Homo sapiens: one gene and its partners. The protein of the gene in region 2 purifies or fractionates together with the protein of the main gene of each other region. This does not show direct contact. Each region holds a gene or a part of one and is shown on either strand. Other genes may lie near its edges. The genes, in order: NQO2, RELB, HSD17B4 and XPNPEP3.

Region 1 (3,571 bases), on a different chromosome or scaffold from region 2:
GTTCAGGTGCATCATAGTAATTGAAGCTAAGAAATATCAAATTTTCTTTTCTTTCTGTCTCTTTCTCTCTCTTCTTTTTAGACAGTCTCACTCTGTCACCCAGGCTGGAATGCAGTGGCATGATCTCAGCTCACTGCAACCTCTGCCTCCCAGGTTCAAGTGATTCTCATGCCTCAGTCTCCTGACTAGCTGGGACTACAGGTGTGTTTCGTGGGAAGTCAGGGACCCCGAATGGAGCAACTGGCTGAGGCCATGGCAGAAGAATATAAATTGTGAAGATTTCGTGGACATTTATTAGTTCCCCAAATTAATACTTTTGTAATTTCTTATGCCTGTCTTTACTGCAATCTCTGAACGTAAATTGTGAAGATTTCATGGACAGTTATCACTTCCCCAATCAATACCCATGTGATTTCCTATGCTTGTCTTTACTTTAATCTCTTAATCCCATCATCTTCATAAGCTGAGGAGGATGTATATTGCCTCAGGACCCTGTGATGATTGTGTTAACTGCACAAATTGTTTGCAGAGCATGTGTGTTTGAACAATATGAAATCTGGGCACCTTGAAAAAAGAACAGGATAACAGCAATGTTCAGGGAACAAGAGAGATAACCTTAAACTCTCACTGCCGGTGAGCCAGGCGGAACAGAGACATATTTCTCTTCTTTCAAAAGCAAATGGGAGAAATATCGCTGAATTCTTTTTCTCAGCAAGGAACATCCCTGAGAAAGAGAATGCGTCCCTGAGGGTGGGCCTCTGAAATGGCCGCTTCGGGGCGGCAGCTGTCTTTTATGGTCCAGCTGTAGGGATGAAATAAGCCCCAGTCTCCCGTAGCGCTCCCAGGCTTATTAAGACAAGGAAATTCCTGCCTAATAAATTTTGGTCAGATCGGTTGTCTGCTCTCAAACCCTGGCTCCTGATAAGATGTTCTCAATGACAATGGTGCCCAAAACTTCATTAGCAATTTTAATTTCGCCCCGTCCCGTGGTCCTGTGATCTCGCCCTGCCTCCATTTGCTTTGTGATATTCTATTACCTTGTGAAGCATGTGATCTCTGTGACCCACACTCTATTTGTACACTCCCTCCCCTTTGGAAAATCACTAATAAAAACTTGCTGGTTTTACGGCTTGGGGGCATCACGGAACCTGCCGACATGTGATGTCTCCCCTGGACACCCAGCTTTAAAATTTCTCTCTTTTGTACTCTGTCCGTTTATTTCTCAGACCGGCCGACACTTAGGAAATATAGAAAAGAACCTACGTGAAATATTGGGGGTGAATTTCGCCCAATATCTGGCTGAATTTCCCCCGATAGATGTGTGCCACTACGCCCAGCTAATTTTTTGTATTTTTAGTACAGATGGGATTTTGCCATGTTGGCCAGGCTGGTCTTGAACTCCTGGCCTCAAGTGATCCACCCGCCTTGGCCTCCCAAAGTGCTGGGATTACAGGCATGAGCCACCGCACTTGGCCAGAAACACCAAACTTTCTTTTCTTTCCTTTTTTCTTTTTCTTTTTTTTTTTTTTTGAAACAGAGTTTCGCTCTTGTTGCCCAGGCTGGAGCAACGATCCCAGCTCACTGCAACCTCTGCCTCCCGGGTTCAAGCAATTCTCCTACCTCAGCCTCCTGAGTAGCTGGGATTACAGGCATGCGCCACCACGCCCGGATAATTTTTTGTATTTTTAGTTAAGACCGGGTTTCTCCATGTTGGTCAAGCTGGTCTCGAACTCCCGACCTCAGGTGATCTGCCCACCTTGGCCTCCCAGAGTGCTGGGATTACTGGTATGAGCCACAGCACCTGGCCCCAGAAATACCAAACTTTCTAATAGGTGGCAGTTTTAAAGCAATGGGCATTTTAAAAATCCAGTTATTCATAGCTCAACATCACAATACAATGGGTCAAATTATATCTCCTCAAAAATACCACCACTAAATCTTTTAAAAGCCCAACCTAATTTGGTTATCCTCTGTAAGAAGGTTTAGACCAGCTCCCTAACACCAAAATAAAGAACTGCTGGAATTAGTCTTCCATGCTAACCCTACATTTGCAGATATCAGCTACAGGCACCTTTCAGTGTGGCACAGTTCTGCTTCCATCTCCCCCAGTCCATCAAATCTGACACTTAAACAAAACATGAGGAATCAGACCCGCTGGTCTCATGGGAAGGCAGGGCCACATGGAGCCCATCTTTCAGTGGTGATGCTGATAACAAAGAGGACTCTAGGAAGAGTCAGGCCCTCCTGGCACTGGCAGTATCGTTCACACCAGGGGCTTCTGAAGCAGTATTTTCCTCATTGGAAAGAGTCTCCAGGCTTATATACTGACTTCGTCTGGGAGGCAGCCTGGTGATTTGCTTAATTAAATTTACCCTGGTCACCTTTAAGAAGATGTTAAACTCTTGATTTAAATTTTTCATAATGACACTTTAAGGAAAAGATACACGTATCAGTTTGAAGCAATGGGTTTCAGGGCATTGAGCTGGCTACAAAGGTTGAATTCCATAAGTTAGATTCATGGTTAACATTTTAATTTTACTTTCTCAGACTCTTGTTTCAATAAAGGAACTATACTTAGGGGCTTAACAGGAGAATAGATGCAAATGAAATACCTACACCAATGGTTCTCAACTGGGGCAGTGTTGTGCCTGCTAGGGGACGTTTCTCAATGCCTGGAGACATTTTGGTTTGTCACAGCCGGTGGGGGAGGGGTGCTACTGGCATCTGGTGGGCAGAGGCCAGGGATGGTGCTAGGTGCTAAACAGGGTGCACAGGATGACCCCCCAAAACATAGGATTATCTGGCCCAGAATGTCAGTGGTGCCAAGGGCGAAAATCCGAATCTACACCATAATGTATAGAGTAAGGTGAACCTGTGCGTTCTAACACGAAAGGCTCTCCATGTTATATCGTTAGGTGAAATTAAAAAGTTGAGAGATTGCATGTTCATGTATATGTGCATGATAAGCAGTTGCAAAAGCAAAGATAGAATCGTACTGAATTTTTACCCAAGATGCCTCCTGGGGTTCATTCACTTGAGCCCCTGCTACAGCCCAGGGAGAATTTCAGGGCCTGGAGGCACAGCAAAGACAGGATAGGCAGGGCCCCACTTTTGAGGAACCTAAATTCTGGAGGGAGTCGAAAGGAACAATGAAACAAGTGAGAACATAGAAAACAAGATAATTCCAGATAGTTTATACACTTCCACGTGGCTTGGATTTTTTACAACAATGTATCCAATTTCTGATTAAGAGTCTAACTCCCACCTGGAAGGTCAATGTGGGAGGGTCACTTGAGCTCAGGAGTTTGAGACCAGCCTGGGCAATACAACAAAATCCCATCTCAAAAAAAAAAAAGTCTTACTCCACAATAGTGAATCATTACCTGCCATAGCGTAAGAAGGTGGATTCCTTCTCTCTGATTTGATGGGTGGCTGGGGCTTTCCTGCGTAGTCTCTCTTCAGCGAGTCCAGCAATCTGGAAGACAAAACGAACCCAGAGGGGGTGGGGAGAGGCATAGGTGAGGTCGAATGTACCACATCTAGGCATCACTGCTGCTTCCTGACAGACACG
Region 2 (3,571 bases):
CATTCTCGTCTCTACCTTCTAAGTAGCTAAGATTACAGGTGCCTGCCACCATGCCTGGCTAATTTTTGTATTTTTATTTTATTTTACTTTTTTGAGATGGAGTCTCGCTCTGTTGGCCAGGCTGGGGTGCAGTGGCACGATCTCAGCTCACTGCACGCTCCACCTCCTGGGTTCACGCCATTCTCCTGCCTCAGCCTCTCGAGTAGCTGGGACTATAGGCGCCCGCCACCACACCTGGCTAATTTTTTGTATTTTTAGTAGAGACGGGGTTTCACCATGTTAGCCAGGATGGTCTCCACCTCCTGACCTTGTGATCTGCCTGCCTTAGTCTCCCAAAGTGCTGGGATTACAGGCCTGAGCCACCACGCTCGGCCAAGAATTTTTGTATTTTTAGTATAGATGGGGTTTCTCCATGTTGGCCAGGCTGGTCTCGAACTCCTGACCTCAGGTGATCCACCTGCCTCGGCCTCCCAAAATGCTGGGATTACAGGCGTGAGCCACCGCGCCTGGTCTCTAGGTTTAAATTCTTTTATCATCCAAACTAATCAAAAGGGCTGGGCACGGTGGTTCGTGCCTGCAATCCCAGCACTTTGGGAGGCTGAGGCGGGTGGATCACCTGAGGCCAGGAGTTCGAGACCAGCCTGGGCAACATGGCAAAACCCCCTCTCTACTAAAAATACAAAATTAGCCAGGCATGATGGTACAGGCCTGTAATCCTACCAACTCAGGAGGCTGAGGCAAGAGGACTGCTTGAACCTGAGAGGCAGAGATCGCACCATTGCACTCCAGCCTGGGCAACAAGAGCAAAACTCTGTCTCAAAAAAAAAAAAAAAGGAATAATAACAAATTCATCAAAATGTATACATTAAGTATGTGCAATTTTTCTTACATCAATTATACCTCAATAAAACTTAAAAAGAAAAACTAGACAGGAAAAAACTAAAACTTTTTTTTCCAAGTAAAAGATTAGGAAAAACTTGGAGCCCACAATTAAAATTATAAGACATCACATTATTTCGGATTTCCAGAATTGTTTTTTTTTTTTTTAGACAGATTCTCTCTGTTGCCCAGGCTGGAGTGCAGTGGTGCGATCCCAGCCTCCAGGGCCTCGAACTCCTAACCTCAGGTGGTCCGCCCACCTCGGCCTCCCCAGATTTTTCTTTTTTAAAAAAGGAAGATATAGCAAGTGAAGCCAGAATTTTTGCTCAGCAGCCACAGGCAGCAGCAAATAAAAACCAGCCCCGTTAGGCAGGGCCAGTCCCACTTGGCAGCTTTGAGTCACTGGCTCAGCCCTGCTGGCATTAAATACCTTCTGAAGCCTGCTCTGAACTTCTAAAGCCCAAGCCTATAAAATACCATTAACCATTGGTCTCAGTGGGGGAGTGCTGCCCCCTAGGGGAAAAATGGGATTTGGGGGGTGGCTGGTTGACACTGATGTGGACCCTACCGCAAGTAGACAGGACCAGTTATGCTGGACAGTTTATAATACCAGGGACAGTCCCGCACAGCCATCCCACAGCCAGCAAGCCTTCTGAACATCCTGCCAAAGATTCGAGTCAATAAGAAACCTGTTTAAAATGACCAGATCCCAGAAACTTGCTCTATTGTTGCTGAGTGGATTTGTTTGTTTGTTTGTTTGTTTGTTTTTAAGACAGGATCTCGCACAGGCTGGAGTGCAATGGCACGATCTCAGCTCACTGCAACCTCCGCCTCCCAGACTCAAGCAATACTTCCACTTTAGTCTCCCAAACATCTGGGCTTACAGGCATGCATCACACCTGGCCCTTGCTCTGTTTGACACCAATAATATTCTTTCCCATAATTGTTTTTCCTTTTTCTTTTTTGAGACGAGGTCTAACTCTGTCACCCAGGCTGGAGTTTCCCATAACTGTAATACCCACTGAATTTTCAAAGATTGCAACCAGCACACTAATTGTTTAGACCAAGAGTTGTTCGCCACTTTGGAAAATCCCCTCACCAACCGCAACCCTGCACGTGTGACATATAAGTCACTAAGTCTGCGCAGCTGGGTCAGGCTGCATTTGTGGCCACGGCATTAACAAGGAGCCTATATATAGTCACAAACAACTGCCACCTTCCTCATATATCCTGTGGGGCGTTTACATATTGAAATAAATGTGATTATATATGCTGTATTAATTTCCTTTTCTTTCTCTTTTATACTACAGTTTGGTGTAAAATATGGAGTTTTGGCCAGGCACGGTGGCTCACGCCTGTAATCCCAGCACTGTGGGAGGCTGAGGCAGGCAGATCACTTGAGGTCAGGAGTTCGAGACCAGCCTGGCCAACATGGTGAAACCCCGTCTCTACTAAAAACACAAAAATTAGCCGGGCCTGCTGGCAGGTGCCTGTAATCTCAGCTACCCGGGAGGCTGAGGCAGGAGAATCACTTGAACTCAGGAGGCGGAGGTTGCATGCCACTGCACTCCAGCCTGGGTGACAGAGCGAGACTGCATCTCAAAAAAAAAATAATAATAAAATAAAATAAAATATGGACTTTGGGAGTGACTGTGAATAGAGGTAGGTAATATTGTCTACAAATCTCACTGGGTCAGATAGGGTTAAAACCATTCATTTAACCAGCTCCCCGCTGTAATAGTAGGAGATTCTGAAAAGCTTAGAGTCAACAGTCTCGGACTCATGCAGACTCCAGGGCTGAAAGCTTTTCATCCTTGAGATGTCAGTTGGGACTGTGGAAAAAACATTAGACTTTAGTTGTTTCTTTTTTCTTTTTTTTTTTTGAGATAGCATCTTTCTCTGTCACCCAGACTGGAGTGCAGTGGTGTGACCATGGCTCACTGCAGCCTCCACTTCCCAGGCTCAAGCAATCCTCCCCATTCAGCCTCCCATGGTGCTGGGACCCCAGGCGCATGCCACCACGCCTGGCTAATTTTTTTATTTTTATAGAGACGGGCATCTTGCCATGTCACCTGGGCTGGTCTTGAACTCCTGGCCTCAAGTGATCCTCCTGCCTTAGTCTCCCAAGGTGCTGGGATCACAGGCATGAGCCACCATGCCTGGCCCATTAGGCTTTAGAATAAGTCCGACCTGGCACCAAATCCAGGCTCTACCACTGGCCATCTACAAGATAAACCTCTCGGGTCTTACTGTCTTTATGTGTAAAATAGGTATGCAAAGTACCTGGTACATGGAAGCACTCAGTAAATGGCGGTAATTACAATAGTAAACTTGCTGTGTGCCCTGTGCAGGTAACTGCCCCTCTTTTAACCTCAGTTTCCTACTCTGAAGATGGGGATAAACATCCTGAATCCAAGCCAGGCATGCTGGCTCATGCCTGTAATCCCAGCACTTTGGGAGGCCGAGGCAGGTGGATTACCTGAGGGCAGGAGTTTGACATCAGCCTGGCCAATGTGGTGAAACCCTGTCTCTACTAAAAATACAAAAATTAGCTGGGCATGGTGGTGCACACCTGTAATCCCAGCTACTTGGGAGGCTAAGACAGGAGAATCGCTTGAACCCAGGAGGCGGAAGTTGCAGTGAGCTGAGATCACACCACTGCACTCCAGCCTGGGCAACAGAGCAAGACTCC
Region 3 (3,407 bases), on a different chromosome or scaffold from region 2:
CGGGTGCAGCACACCAACATGGCACATGTATACATATGTAACAAACCTGCGCATTGTGCACATGTACCCTAGAACTTAAAGTATAATAATAATAATAAAAAAGAAGAAGTGGACAAAAGGTATGGAACAATAATTAATGAAATAAATAGAAATGACTAACATACAAAAGAAAAAAATTTTTCCCAGTATCCAAAAATACAAATTAAAGCATGTTATTTTTGCCTCATATTTTCAAAGTGTAAGAAAATAGTATTTTTAAGGTTGGGATAAGATAATTTACACACAACTGGAGGGAATATAAAATTGGTATAGGCCAGGGACAATGTCTCGTGCCTGTAGTTCCAGCACTTTGGGAGGCCAAGGCAGGAGGATTGCTTGAGTCCAGGAGTTTGAGCCTGGGTGAGACAGTGAGACCCTGTCTCTACCAAAAAAAAAAAAAAAAAAAAATTAGCCTGGTGTGGTGGCACACACCTGTAGTCCCAGCTACTTGAGAGGCTGAGTTGGGAGGATCACTTGAGCCCAGGAGGCTTAGGCTGCAGTGAGTGTGATCATGCAGCTGTAGCCTGGGTGACAGAGCAAGACCCTGTGTCAATCAATCAGTAGTTGGTATAGCCTTTCTGGAAAGCACAGTGCTTCCAGACCTTCTTCCTTTATGGCAGTTTATAGTCTTACTACTTTTTGCATGGCACTCCTAGGCCAAACCATATACCTAACAGTTTCATTTATGAAGTAGTTCAAAACAATTAGTTTTTTGTGTTCAACCAGTATGACTGTATTTCCCTCCCAAATTAACAGTATTGGGAAAGTGTCCCTGAGAGAGTTTGCTGTGATGTCCGGTGCATGGCAGTGCAGAGTTTGGAAACTGGCAATATGGACGTATGGTTAAGGGCTTTAAGAAATAAGAAAATAGATAGGAGGAAAGATTTATGTACAAAATTCTTCTGCTCAAAAATGTCCAAAATTGATATTTTTACTTCTAGTAATTAGGTGTTCTTGTTTTAGGTTGTAAATCTCTTTCAGAGTTTAGTACATAGCAGGCTGGCCTAAGTACTGACTCCTTCCCTGCATGAGTTGCAGACCATCGTTTTGTTTGTTTGTTTTTTGTAACTGCATAGTGAAAGAAATCTTAGTTTTGAAATTCTGGTCTCCTGTTTGAATGCATTTGATTGTGACTGAATGAGCTCTCTCTGACTATTTCTGGAATAAAAAGTTGTTGCCTTTTCTCCAGTTCACGAGGGTTTGCTTCTGAGACTAAGTGCTGCTCGTTAACAAGTATTGTTAACAAGCATTGCTGAGCAAAGAACACCTGAGTTTAAGCCCTGGCCCTACTTCTTGCTGGCTCTGTAGACTTGAGCAGGTTATTTAATAAGCTCTCTGAAATTCAGTTTCTCATCTGTCAACTGGGGTAAGAACTGCTGATGTGCCCACTTCAAATTGACAGCTGTAATTCTTAAATGAGATTATATTTGTGGAGCTGCTTTGTAATGCTCAGTGTATGTAGGTATCACTATTTTTTCCATTTAGCTAGAAATCTAGAGGCTTTTTCACTTCATATTTTATGTAAGCTATAAAAACTATGATTGATTATTTTTATTTTACTGATAGGGAATTTACACTGAAGGAGAACTTAAGGAACTTGCACCAGTTTCTGTATCAGGTTAGATACAAAACTGCTACAGGAACCCTTCGTTTTTAACACACCAGCTTTTGCTTGGTAATGATGAATTAATACTCTCTTATCACATGTCAAACTACTAAGCTAAGCACTCTACACATTACTTTATTTAACACGCACAACAGAGTTGTGTTATTTAGGGACTGTTGTTATGCCTTTTATAGATGAGGAGATTGAAACTCACAGAGGCCACGTATCTAAGCATTTTCTCAAGCTCACCTTGCTATTAAGGGGCACAGCCTGGATTTTAACTCAGGCATTCTGATGCTACAGCTGTGATCTATTCAACATTGTGTTATATTCTCTAATTTGTCATTTCGTGGCTTTCTAGTTCATGAAACTGTAGTAAATATTTTAAATCTGCTTTTAGAAGTTCTGAATTGAATATTTTTATTAGGAATACAGTGTAGCCTTTTATTAATATGGTCTCAAATTGTAAGAACATAAAGTAAAGCCAGAAACGTAGGTTGAAACAGAACTCCCAGATCCATGAGTTCAGATAAATTATTGTATAGTTTTCTAAAATACACAGGAATGATTTTTCTTTTTTTTAGATGTCTAAAAAAATGTGCTATCTGTAGTTATTAAATTGTCATTGCTAAATAAAGGTTGCCTTTGTTGTCCAGAATTATTAGCTCAATTGTATTCAGTCTGAATAATCTTAAAAAAAAAAAAAAGAAATAAACTATAACATGGTAACAGTTGGCACTCTTTTTCCCTCCTCTCCTTGCAGGCATTCTTTAGTGGCAGGCTGAAGGCCAGAGGGAACATCATGCTGAGCCAGAAACTTCAGATGATTCTTAAAGACTACGCCAAGCTCTGAAGGGCACACTACACTATTAATAAAAATGGAATCATTAAATACTCTCTTCACCCAAATATGCTTGATTATTCTGCAAAAGTGATTAGAACTAAGATGCAGGGGAAATTGCTTAACATTTTCAGATATCAGATAACTGCAGATTTTCATTTTCTACTAATTTTTCATGTATCATTATTTTTACAAGGAACTATATATAAGCTAGCACATAATTATCCTTCTGTTCTTAGATCTGTATCTTCATAATAAAAAATTTTGCCCAAGTCCTGTTTCCTTAGAATTTGTGATAGCATTGATAAGTTGAAAGGAAAATTAAATCAATAAAGGCCTTTGATACCTTTGTTTTTTTGTGATTTTCTGTTTTTTTATTTATTGATACCCCAGTTTTTATGTGAATTTCCATGTATGCACTCATTTTTCATACTTTGTTCTGATAGTATTCTCTTTTAAAGCAAGAGAAAAGTCTTTGTGCTCCCAAATAGTTTTCTTTCTTCTCCCCTCCCCTTTGCTGGAAATTCTTTACTACATATAATGTTTATAAATCTACCAAGTGTAGCTTTCTTGAAGAATCAGCAGTCTCAAAACAGAAAGATAGTCACTAGCAAGTACTGCCACATCACTGTTTTCCTCAGCATTTAGCTCTGATGAAGTGCACTGGGAGATGCTCTTTGGATGAGTTGGCTGCAGAGGTGACCAGCAGCAGGTGGTATGCTAAGCTCAGAGATGGAGTAAATTTCAATCAGGTAACACAGCTGAGGAGAATATGTGTGGGTGGCTAGTATGGGCTGAGTTTCCCAGGAAGCTGACTTTCAGATGGAGATTCATGTGCAGGAAGTTGATTTGGGAGGTGCTTTTATGAGCAGCACCTGCCAGGAGAAGCAAAGGAAGCAGAGCTGGGCAGATGGAGACATT
Region 4 (3,239 bases), on a different chromosome or scaffold from region 2:
TCAAATTTGTTCCATTGTGCCATACAAAGTATCTTTTTGTGCCTGCCAGAACGTGAGAAATGTTAAAGGTACTCCTCATAGACAGTCTCAGATTTTAAAGATGGTTCCTAACAGGGAGAGAGAGATGGCTACACTTACGATTCATTATATGGTTGACAAAGGTCAAATATTCATAATTTTGCAACTTGATCCTATTTCCCCACAAAATTCATCCTTCATAAAATGTGCATGGCTACAGTTTACAGTCTTGAGTGTTATGGGGACTTTCTGGAGACCTTTCAGTCAGTTTTGTGCCAACCTTTTAATAGGCTGGATCAAATCCACCAGATTCTTCCTCTATAAGACTGATAAAATCATTTCAAGTTTGCTATCATGATTTTGTGACAGCAGCTAATGAATACTTTGTAAATTATTTTGTAAAACCAGATGGTCTCACGTTTATACTGTTTATACTAAATAGACCGTAAACTCTAGATTCTAAAGTAACACACACACACCATACCCCTCTATATTGTTTTATAGTTTTATTTTTTTTAAATGACAGTTACAAGTGCTTTTCCCTTGATGGGCAATGACGTAACTATTTTCAGTTATTAGTAATGCCTTAAAAAGTAACAGCATTTTGTCTAAACTGAACTTATATAATTGCACAAAAGTCATGGAAAGCATTAAGAAATGCTGGTAAAGATTGAAGTTTTCTCAGATTCTTGCGCAATTCCAAGAAGCCTTGATTCCAGTGGGTCCTCTGATTCAAACAATAATGATGCTCAAACTCAGTGACACACAGGTAGAGAACAGCAGCACAACCAGGAGAACCCATGTGGTTTGTAACAGTGAAATTCTGCTCTACTGTTAAGGTTTAATGATGCATTCATTCATCTTTTCATTAGGAGCATAAAAAACACCTCAAATTATATTTTCTCAGGCTTAAAACTTGTTTTGAGCTATGGATTCTACTTCAGGAAACAAAAATTAAAAAAAAAAAAACACAATCACACCATAAAAACCTCTTCTAAGCAGGTTCCTTTATGTTGCTACTGTCTGTGGTGCCTGCCTAATTTTCTAATAGACACACAAACGAATTACATTCTCAGCTATCAGACACTAGTTGAGGGACAGCAGATAGGTTCTAACTCAAATTCTGTTTTATTGGCAGAAGTTATTGGAAACACTGTTACAAAGGACTCCGAGGTCACCGCTGGACTGGTGAACAGCTCACTGTGCTTTCTTCTCCATCTCTGACATGGGAACAGGAGGGGGAGAAGCAGCATTTGTGCTTCACATTTCTGATCTCTGTATTATTAACAAAGCTGAACAGGGTGTGGGTGTGGATATTTGGAAAGACATAACAAAGGTACATTTTTCTGTTTTAATAAGTTGCAATGTCTTTAGATGGAGGTTTAACATGTTTTATTTGTATCTTAATCTCAAGACAGTATTTCTACGGTGAAGGTTTTTCCCTTTCTCACCTTACAAAAACGGAGAAAAAAGCAAGGTTTTGAAGGAAGATGCACACACAGTACTTTAAGTTACTCTCAGAAGCATTTTCCTAACGTGGATACTATGATTATGAGAGGAGGAGAGTTCTCACTCCAGTTTTTCTCTTCTTTTTTATTGAGACAGGGTCTTTCTCTGTTGCCCAGGGTGAAGTGGCACAATCATGGCTCACTGCAGCCTTGACCTCCTAAGCTCAAGCGATCCTCCCACCTCAGCCTCCTGAGTAGCTGGGACTATAGGTGCAAACCACCACACCTGGCTAACTTTAAATTTTTTTGTTGAGACAAGGTCTCTCTATGTTGCCTAGGCTGGTCTCAAACTCCTGGGCTCAAGTGACCATCCCTCCTTGGTCTCCCAAAGTGCTGGGATTATAGCTGTGATCCACTGCACCCAACTTTACTATAGTATTTATACTGTTGTGTTTCAAATAAAGAACACAGTCTGTTTCCTAATTATGGTGACAAAATAGTAATTCCTGAAATAAATACATAAAAGTATGTGACACTGGATATCCAGATATGTTTCCTTCATTTAGGTGGTATTGTTAATGATCTAACCATGTATCTTCAATTCAGGGAGAAAAATTCCAGTAGTAACATTTGAGTAATTTTTTTTAAGTTAAGATTTTTAATAGGAATGCCTGGTATATATATTATTTATTATACTTAGAACTAAAGGCTCGGCTGGGCACGGTGGCTCACACCTGTAATCCCAGCACTTTGGGAGGCCAAAGTGGGCAGATCACGAGGTCAGGAGATCAAGACCATCCTGGCCAACATGGTGAAACCCTGTCTCTACTAAAAATACAAAAATTAGCTGGGCATGGTGGTGCGTGCCTGTAATCCCAGCTACTTGGGAGGCTGAGGCAGGAGAACTGCTTGAACCAGGGAGTTGGAGGTTGCAGTGAGCCAAGATGGCGCCACTACACTCCAGCCTGGCGACAAAGCAAGACTGTCTCTGGCTGGGGGCCGTGGCTCATGCCTGTAATCCCAGCAGTTTGGGAAGCTGAGGTGGGTGGATCACAAGGTCAGGAGATCAAGACCAGCCTGGCCTGGCCAAGATGGTGAAACCCCGTCTCTACTAAAAATACAAAAATTGGGTGTGGTGGCAGGTGCCTGTAATCCCAGTTACTAGGGAGGCTGAGGCAGGAGAATTGGTTGAAGCCGGTGGGTGGAGGTTGCAGTGAGCCAAGATCACACCACTGTACTCCAGCCTGGGTGACAGAGTGAGACTCTATCTCAAAAAAAAAAAAGAACTAAAGGCTCAACACAAATAAATGATAAATGTTCAATGTGATGGATATGCTAATTGTTCTGATCTGATCATTATATATGTATCAAAACATCATTATTTACCCTGTAAATACGTACAATTATATGTCAATTAAAAACTTTAAAAAGGCTGGGTGCAGTGGCTCACGCCTGTAATCCCAGCACTTTGGGAGGCTGAGGTGGGCAGATTATGAGGTCAGGAGATTGAGACCATCCTGGCTAACACAGTAAAACCCCATCTCTACTAAAAATACAATAAACTAGCCGGGCATGGTGGCACGCGCCTGTAGTCCCAGCTACTCAGGAGGCTGAGGCAGAAGAATTGCCTGAACCCGGGAGATGGAGGTTGCAGTGAGCCAAGATCGTGCCACTGCACTCCAGCCTGGGTGACAGAGCGAGACTCCATCTCAAAAAAAAAAAAAACAAAAAAACCCCACAAAAAACCTTTAAAAAAAAAAAAAGCTAATATAA

Evidence for each region.
Region 1: the proteins of RELB (region 2) and NQO2 purify together in Homo sapiens (tandem affinity purification; one large-scale study listed by IntAct). This does not show direct contact.
Region 3: the proteins of RELB (region 2) and HSD17B4 purify together in Homo sapiens (tandem affinity purification; one large-scale study listed by IntAct). This does not show direct contact.
Region 4: the proteins of RELB (region 2) and XPNPEP3 purify together in Homo sapiens (affinity purification with mass spectrometry, with the first as the bait; one large-scale study listed by BioGRID). This does not show direct contact.

The regions. Positions count from the first base shown.
Region 1 is NC_000006.12:3,006,372-3,009,942, reverse strand, and holds part of NQO2 (ribosyldihydronicotinamide dehydrogenase [quinone]), read right to left. Parts: intron 3,476-3,571; 5' UTR 3,391-3,475; coding exon 3,384-3,390; intron 1-3,383. UniProt on the Homo sapiens protein: The enzyme apparently serves as a quinone reductase in connection with conjugation reactions of hydroquinones involved in detoxification pathways as well as in biosynthetic processes such as the vitamin K-dependent gamma-carboxylation of glutamate residues in prothrombin synthesis.
Region 2 is NC_000019.10:45,014,926-45,018,496, reverse strand, and holds part of RELB (transcription factor RelB), read right to left. Parts: intron 1-3,571.
Region 3 is NC_000005.10:119,539,497-119,542,903, forward strand, and holds the end of HSD17B4 (peroxisomal multifunctional enzyme type 2), read left to right. Parts: intron 1-2,408; coding exon 2,409-2,498; 3' UTR 2,499-2,836; downstream 2,837-3,407. UniProt on the Homo sapiens protein: Bifunctional enzyme acting on the peroxisomal fatty acid beta-oxidation pathway.
Region 4 is NC_000022.11:40,930,086-40,933,324, reverse strand, and holds the end of XPNPEP3 (xaa-Pro aminopeptidase 3), read right to left. Parts: 3' UTR 510-3,239; downstream 1-509. UniProt on the Homo sapiens protein: Catalyzes the removal of a penultimate prolyl residue from the N-termini of peptides, such as Leu-Pro-Ala. Also shows low activity towards peptides with Ala or Ser at the P1 position.